Linked DNA regions of Homo sapiens. The protein of the gene in region 2 purifies or fractionates together with the protein of the main gene of each other region. This does not show direct contact. Each region holds a gene or a part of one and is shown on either strand. Other genes may lie near its edges. The genes, in order: ADGRG5 and ABCG1.

Region 1 (3,806 bases), on a different chromosome or scaffold from region 2:
GTGTGTGCAGTGGTCTGGAGGTGCGTGTGACAGAGGTGTGGGTGGGGAGGCCCTGCCCTCCCAGGCTGTCTACAGCCCCCTCTCACCCTTACCCCACTCCGGGCTCTGGCCTCCCTGGCCATCTCTCTGGGCTGCAGTCAACTCCACCAGCTGGAGCAGATGCTACTGAACACCAGCTTCCCAGGCTACAACCTGACCTTGCAGACACCCACCATCCAGTCTCTGGCCTTCAAGCTGAGCTGTGACTTCTCTGGCCTCTCGCTGACCAGTGCCACTCTGAAGCGGGTGCCCCAGGTCAGAGGCTGCGGGTTGGGGGGTGTGGCCAGCTGCCCCGCCCTAGAAGTCCTCCAGGCATTTAAGGTCTGGACTTTCTTTAGGCTCCACTGTCTTCCTCCCCACACCCCACAGTCCAGGCTCTGCCCTAACTGGCAGTGAGTTGCCTCCTCTGTAAAATGGGGCTCATACTCGCTGTGTGAACTGTGGAAAGGGAGGTGCTTTATTGCCCCTGCAGGGCAGAATCTTCTTCCTGCTTTGGCTGGAGGCTGCCCGCTGCGGGAGGCGCTGTGGGAGAGGCCAGAAACCCTGGCTCCTTTTAGGACCCTGGGGTGATCAGCTGGATCCCTGGCAGGGGCTGGGGCTGGTGCTGGGGCTGGGTGCTGAGGTAGCTCCATCTTCAGGGGTTCAGTGGGTCAGGTAAACATCCAAAACTCAGGAACAGCATGGAGGGAAGGCCTGGGATCTTGGGAAGTTTGGGAGGAGATGCAGCCTGGGGGGAGAAGGTTCTGTGGGTGGAAACCCCAAGGAAGGTTTCACGGGGAGTGGGAGGCAGTGAAGGTGTTGGGGTCAGGTCTCCAGGTCCTGGTTGCCAAACAGCCTGTTTGCGACCCTCTGCAGGCAGGAGGTCAGCATGCCCGGGGTCAGCACGCCATGCAGTTCCCCGCCGAGCTGACCCGGGACGCCTGCAAGACCCGCCCCAGGGAGCTGCGGCTCATCTGTATCTACTTCTCCAACACCCACTTTTTCAAGGTCAGTGTGATGGCGGGCCAAGGAGGGTGGGTGCCGGCCCCTTCTTGGGATCCACTGCAGGTGCCCATGTCACTGCCTGGCCTCTGGGTGACCAGCACTGAGTGAGACCAACCAGCCATCTGTGCAATCCAAGCCAGCAATTGTCCCTCTCTGGGCCTCAGTTTCCCTGCCAACTTTAGCAGAATGGTAGGAAGGTATAATTACAATCTGCAAATAAGACCTAAGAAACCTACGATGTGCCTGTCGGTAGGCGGGAGACAGACAAGAAGGCACTTATTATTCCCTGCCCTCAGATAACTCTCTGTCTTGATGCCTAGACTAAGACCTTACAGATTTTTTTTTTTTTTTTTGGCAGAGTCTCGCTCTGTTGCCCAGGCTGGAGTGCAGTGGCATGATCTCGGCTCACTGCAACCTCTGCCTCCTGGGTTCAAGCAATTCCCCTGCCTCAGCCTCCTGGGATTACAGGCGTGTGCCATCATGCCCAGCTAATTTTCGTATTTTTAGTAGAGACCGGGTTTAACCACGTTGGCCAGGCTGATCTTGAACTCCTGGCCTCAAGTGATCCGCCTGCCTTGGCCTCCCAAAATGCTAGGATTATAGGCGTGAGCCACTGAGCCTGGCCTGATCTTAGAGATTTAATGTCAGCAGAAGGTTGATTATAGCCATAGAGATCCAGAGTGATGGATGAGTCAGGGTGGGGTTGGGGCTCTTCCCAGTGGGCAGTCCAGGGGAGTTTCTGGGGAAGGTGCCTTTCAACCTTGGCTTTGAAAGTGAGTGAGGATAGTGGTGAGGTGGAGGGCGTGAGGCTGGAATGCATTAAACGAATGGGAGGTGGAGCAGGGGGTGGTGAGAGGACAGCTTTCCACAGGGCAGAAACAGCACATGCAAAGGCTGGGAGGCTGGGAAGGCTGGGAGGCTGGGAGGCTGAGAAAGCTTTCACGCTGCACACGTGAAAGTCTTGCTGCTTGTTCTCATCCAGGGAAGCGGAGCTCAGACCTTACCCAGGGCCTCCCCATTTCCCCTCCACTCAGCCCTTCTCCTGCTGCCCTTCCAGGATGAAAACAACTCATCTCTGCTGAATAACTACGTCCTGGGGGCCCAGCTGAGTCATGGGCACGTGAACAACCTCAGGGATCCTGTGAACATCAGCTTCTGGCACAACCAAAGCCTGGTACTGCTGGGGGCGCCCCCGTTTCCACTGCACCCCTGCCCCTCTGTGACTCTCCTGTTGAACACTGGTTTGACTAGACCCAAACCTGTGGAACCATCTTGGAAATCCATCACACTTTGAAAATTCCTGCTCAAGAAATAAGAGAGAGAGAAGTTTTTACTCATGCATTTGTCAGAATTCTTTCAGTTGCAAGTAAGAAAAGACCACTTCAAGCCAGCTTGAGCACAGAGGGAACTGATTGGCACACATCCATGAAATGTCTAGAGGTGATCCACCAGCTTCAGACATAGCTGGATCCAGGGATGGATCTGATGCCCTTGTGGCTCAGTCTCTCTCCGTCTCAGCAATGGTCTCCTGTCTTGGCTGTCCATTCTGTGGCATGATGGATGCTGGAGAGCCAGACTTCCTTTCCCTCTTCCCATCAGGCTCTTCCCCCGACTCCCCACCCACAACCTGCCCCAGTGCAGATCAGGGTCTCAGGATCTTAAAGGTTCAGCTGGGTCACACATGTCCATCCCTGCACCTGTCACTGTGCCCAGGGGGATGGAATGTGTGGATTGGCCAGGCCTGGGTCACACGGCCCAGGGACTGGGGTGAAGGAGTGAGCTCCTAGGGTAAGTGCAGATGCTGATCCTGGAACAGAGACAGGGCTGCTTGTTGGGGGTGGGGGCAGAGTGGGGTGGTTCACAAGCCTCAGTGCCTCCATTTCTGGTTCCTGGCATTCCTGAAAAGCCCGGAGCCTCTGCTTTCTGGCTTCATCTTCCCTTCAGCTTCACCAGGACTGCCCTGCACTCTAAATTTCACCATCATCCTTTCCTTTCAGCTCTGGGCTTTTGCCACTATGGTTCCCTCCACCTGGAATGCCCTTGCCCTACTCGTGTTGAAATCCAACACGTCCTCTAAGGGTTCAGGGCCCCCACCTCCCCTTCTCCCTTTGGGTCAGCTCTGCCTACCCTCCATGGTCTTCCGTGACTACCTGTGTCATTTCCTCCACTTCTCCACCCACGTGGCTTGGCATTAGGGTTGTCTGTGGATGAGTCTCCCCCAACCAGGCGTGGGTCTGAGCACATTGCTGTTCCCCATGGGGAGGAAGGGAAGGGATCAGCTGGTTATGGAGCGCCTACTGTATAAAAGGCCAGAGCTGGACACTCAAGATTCCGTGTTGCCCTTTGTTTTTCCACCATTGTTGTAACATGGGTACGAATGATCCTATTCTGTAGATGACTAAACTGAGGCTCAGAGCAACTTGGTGTCTTGCCTGGGTCACTCTGAGAGCCCACAGTGGAGGTGGGACAGGAATCTGAGACTGTCTGAAGCCAAAGGCCAGCCAGTGCCTGGTAAAATGTTGGCAAATGTGCAGTTGAGTCACCGTTGGCCCCCAGGACTCCCAGACACTGATCTGCAGCCTTTCCTCTGCACCCTATGACTGACCCAGCATCTCCACCCAGGAAGGCTACACCCTGACCTGTGTCTTCTGGAAGGAGGGAGCCAGGAAACAGCCCTGGGGGGGCTGGAGCCCTGAGGGCTGTCGTACAGAGCAGCCCTCCCACTCTCAGGTGCTCTGCCGCTGCAACCACCTCACCTACTTTGCTGTTCTCATGGTATGTAT
Region 2 (3,806 bases):
AGAGTCACTTTTGTTCTTGTAAATAGGTTTGACTTGAAAGCAAGGTCTCTGAGGTGCCAGGAAGGCAACGAAACAGATCTGCAGTACCCCTCAAAGCAGTCATGACCCACGGTAGCCACACCACGGCACAGGCTCTGGGAAGCAGGCTGCACGCCAGGAACAAGCAGGGCACTGCGCACGGAGCCCTCCCTGTCTGCTCCGGATTATTGATCCTGTATCGACTCAGGGAACACGAAGGTCAGCAGATTTCTGTGCTGGCTTGGTGCTGCTTTCAGCCCCAGCATCATCTCAGAAGCAGGCCCTGGGTCAGCCACTGCCATCCCTGCCTCCCTACCCTGGGGACAGCCCACCTGGAGCTCCCTCCAGCATTCACCCAGCTATTGTCCCCACCCTGCCAGGGCAGCCCTGTGGTGGCCGGCCCCTGGGAGCCATAGCAAGCGGACCCTACTCCAGCGGCTCCTCTAGGGAGATGAAGTCATCTGAAGGGAGGAAGAACTCACGAGGAAGAAAATTTCCACTCTGAGCTTCTGAATTATTTATGCACAGTCGGTACAAAGTGCAGCTTTGGTGACAGAAAGAACCGGGGCACGGCTGCTGGACAGGCCAGGGCAGGTGGCAGTACAGGGTCAGCCGACCTGGGCTCCAGCCCTGTCCTGAACCTCCTTGCTGATGCCCTCACCCCAGCCCTGGTGCCTCTGCTGGATGCCTGGCTCTGAGGGCCGCCAACCCAGAAACAGCTTCTGGAAGGCTGTCTGGAAAAGGCTGGTGGGTGGGGGGCGTGCAAGGTGGGCAGAGCCCTCTTCCCAGCTGGCATCGACTGCTGGTCTTCCCAGGACGAGGCCTCCAGATCTTCTGGAACCACTGGGCGACGCTCTTGGCCGACTGAGTGGCTCTGGTGCTTCCAGGCTCACTGTGGGGGCCCCACACATGCGGCACATCTTCTTCTCTCCCTCCACCCTCACGGAGGGGATGCTGGAAGCGGAGGCCGCTGTGGGTGCCTTTCCCTCCGCACCCCTGCCCATGAGCTGGGCCCACCCCACTTTCTCCAGTGTCCGCTCAGGAGTGATGCCACCCAGAAGGGTTCTGTTTTAAAGACTAGTCAGAAAGAACAAACAATGATCTCAGTTATTTATACATTTTCCCTAAACAAACAAACAAAAAACCTGCAAGGCCACTTGTAGCTCCAGCCCCCCTGGGGCTTCCCGGCGGGCGCTCCAGGGAGGATCTCGGCAGCCCAGGCTGCCCCTGGAGACCTCACTCCTGAGGAAGTGGCCTTGCTGGAGGGCTCTGGAGGGCTGAGGCTGCTTTGCTGGGAATTAAGGAAGGCCGTGAACAACACAGCAAAAATTCCATGATCTTCTAGAACATTCCATCCCATTGTGTTTCCATGAGACAGAGAGAGAACTTTGACCTAGGTGCACATCGGGGGTTGGAGGGAAGTGAGTGAAGGCACAAAGTTGCTGCCCTGTTCTCCTGAAGCAATCCTGATGGTGGGCCCGATGGCGAGGCATGCACCTGTGCCATGGCTGAGGAACAGCTGGGTCTGCTGGTGAGGAGCATGTGCAGGACGCAGCGTGGCCTCCAGGTCCTGTGGGGAGGGCTCTCTGCATTGTTCAATCCAGCCGAAGAGGAATCTGAGGACGGCGCCAGGGGCTCACCCCTCAGGGATGATTCAGCCACATGAGCTGATATTTTTGCCCTTGTAAACCCAGTTGAAAATAGCTGGAGGCTCTCATCCGGGCCGTGTCTTAGGCAGGGCCCAGGCACCACGAGGACACACACCTATGGGTGCCATCTGCCTTCGGGTCCCGTGTAGCTACTCCTGGGAGGCGCCTCCATTCTCCACCAAGATGCCAGCTTGTTCTGGGTCTTCCAGCTCCGGCAGGCCAAGGGCCTGGCTTGCTGTGACTTCAGCACGGAGCCTGCTGAGCAGCACTCACTGTGCGCCCAGCCCATGGGGAGAGCGACTTTCACCAGCTACCCCGGAAAAGGCTGGTGGCTGTCGCCTTATGCTGCAGGGAAGCAATCCCACAGCCCCTCCCATATGGATCACATGGGCTCCATCGAGCTCAGAGACCTTAAAGAAACCATCCAGTTCAGGTTGCACTGCCCCAAAAGGCAGGTGGGGCCTGGCTTCCTGTCCCCACGTTACAGGTGAAGCTCGGCTCGGGGCACAGCAGGCAGTGGCCCAAGGCCATCCGGTGGGTTCCAGGAGGCCAGGATGGAGGGCTCCCCCGTGTGCTCAGCTCTACTTCACCACAGGGCCTCTCCGTGTTAGCAAGTCTCTCCGCCCTCCGCCTCCTGCGTCTGCTCCCCCGGCCTCCGGTGATCCCCGAGACCCTCTCCACCGTTTGCTCTGTCCTTGGGCCTTATTTTGGGTCAGAGAGACAGAATTCCCTCTCTCCAGCGCCTCCCTCTCCAGAGCTCTTGGCTCCTCCTCCACGCCGAGCATCAGTGACCACTTCCACCGTCTCTCCTTGGAGCCCCCACAGCCGCCCCTCAGCTTGCAGGCCAGCATCTGGAGGGGTCTTTGGGACCTCGATGGAGGGCTATCCGAGACAAAGAGATTGGATTGTGCTTCCGACACCCCATGAAAGCAGGGAGGCCGGGGGATGGGAAGGAGGGCCCTGAAAGGCGGATCCAGGGGCACTGCATCCAGGCTTCGGGAGGAGCAGCTTCTTGAGTCTCCGGGTGGAAAAGCCTCTGCTTCATGGGGGCCCTGCACACTCTTGCCGGCCTCTCCTCTTGTCCTGTAGCTGATGGCAAGGAGGGCCCAGGACTGGGGGGTGGCAAAACTGACCTCAGACAGGGAGAGTGAAGGTCGCCCTGGCTCAATCCCAGGGCCCCGTTCTGTTGATTTGGGTTCATCTCCCATGGGAGACTTCGCCGAGACTCAGCTCTGACACCTGCTTTTCTCCATGTTCTTCTGTGTGCCTGGAACTAAGGCTCTCGTTTGTTACGTTCACTGCTGTAACGAAGTCCCCCACACTGGCTGGTTTCCACAACAGAAACTCCCGCCTCAATTCTGGAGGCCAAAGTCTGAGATCGAGGGCAGCAGGGTTGGTTCCTGAGGCCCCTCTCCTGGGCTGGCAGATGCCGCCTCCTCCCTGTGTCCTCACGGGGCCATCCCTTGGTGTGTCTGGGTCCTCCTCTCCTCTTCTTACAGGGACACAGTTAGACTGGACTGAGGCCCACCCATATGACCCCATTTTAACTTCATTACTTCTGTAAAGACCCGATCTTCAAATACAGCCATTTCTGGGTTTCTGGGGTGTAGGCTTTAACATATCATCTTTTGGGGGGAATTCAGGCCATAACACTCATCTTCCATAACTTGGTATAAGTAACATTCTCGGGCTTGGGAGGTGGTGTGTGTGTTGTGGGGGGGTGTCTACGTTACATTGTTTAGAAAACACTATCCAGAGGGGGCTCTCGCCTTTCAGCCTAGACAATAAACTCACAAGGCTGGGTCTTCTGCCCCCATGAAGGGCCAGGAACACATGTGATTTCCACATTTTCTCTCTTTTGGTTTCCACTCATCCATTTTCTTTTCAATCTCAGAATAAAAGAATTCCACACAGAACATTTTCTGTAGCAACAAAGAGTCATTTTCCTTCTCTCAGACATTAGGCTCTTTCCACCTGCACCGGGCATTTCACCCCCCAGCCCCGGTGACACGGGCTGAATCCTGAGTTTTGAAGGGCACAGTTGATGGGGGAGGAGGAGCATTAAGGTTGTCCAACTCTTTTTTTCCATACCAAAGTGGTTTACATTTACTTAATATTAGCTATTACAGATGACCGGAG

The links.
Region 1: the proteins of ABCG1 (region 2) and ADGRG5 purify together in Homo sapiens (co-immunoprecipitation; one large-scale study listed by IntAct). This does not show direct contact.

Annotation. Positions count from the first base shown.
Region 1 is NC_000016.10:57,562,954-57,566,759, forward strand, and holds part of ADGRG5 (adhesion G-protein coupled receptor G5 isoform 1 precursor), read left to right. Parts: intron 1-137; coding exon 138-294; intron 295-894; coding exon 895-1,026; intron 1,027-2,080; coding exon 2,081-2,197; intron 2,198-2,335; exon of another isoform or gene 2,336-3,645; coding exon 3,646-3,798; exon of another isoform or gene 3,799-3,806. UniProt on the Homo sapiens protein: Orphan adhesion G-protein coupled receptor (aGPCR). Ligand binding causes a conformation change that triggers signaling via guanine nucleotide-binding proteins (G proteins) and modulates the activity of downstream effectors, such as adenylate cyclase.
Region 2 is NC_000021.9:42,277,869-42,281,674, reverse strand, and holds part of ABCG1 (ATP-binding cassette sub-family G member 1), read right to left. Parts: intron 1-3,806. UniProt on the Homo sapiens protein: Catalyzes the efflux of phospholipids such as sphingomyelin, cholesterol and its oxygenated derivatives like 7beta-hydroxycholesterol and this transport is coupled to hydrolysis of ATP. The lipid efflux is ALB-dependent.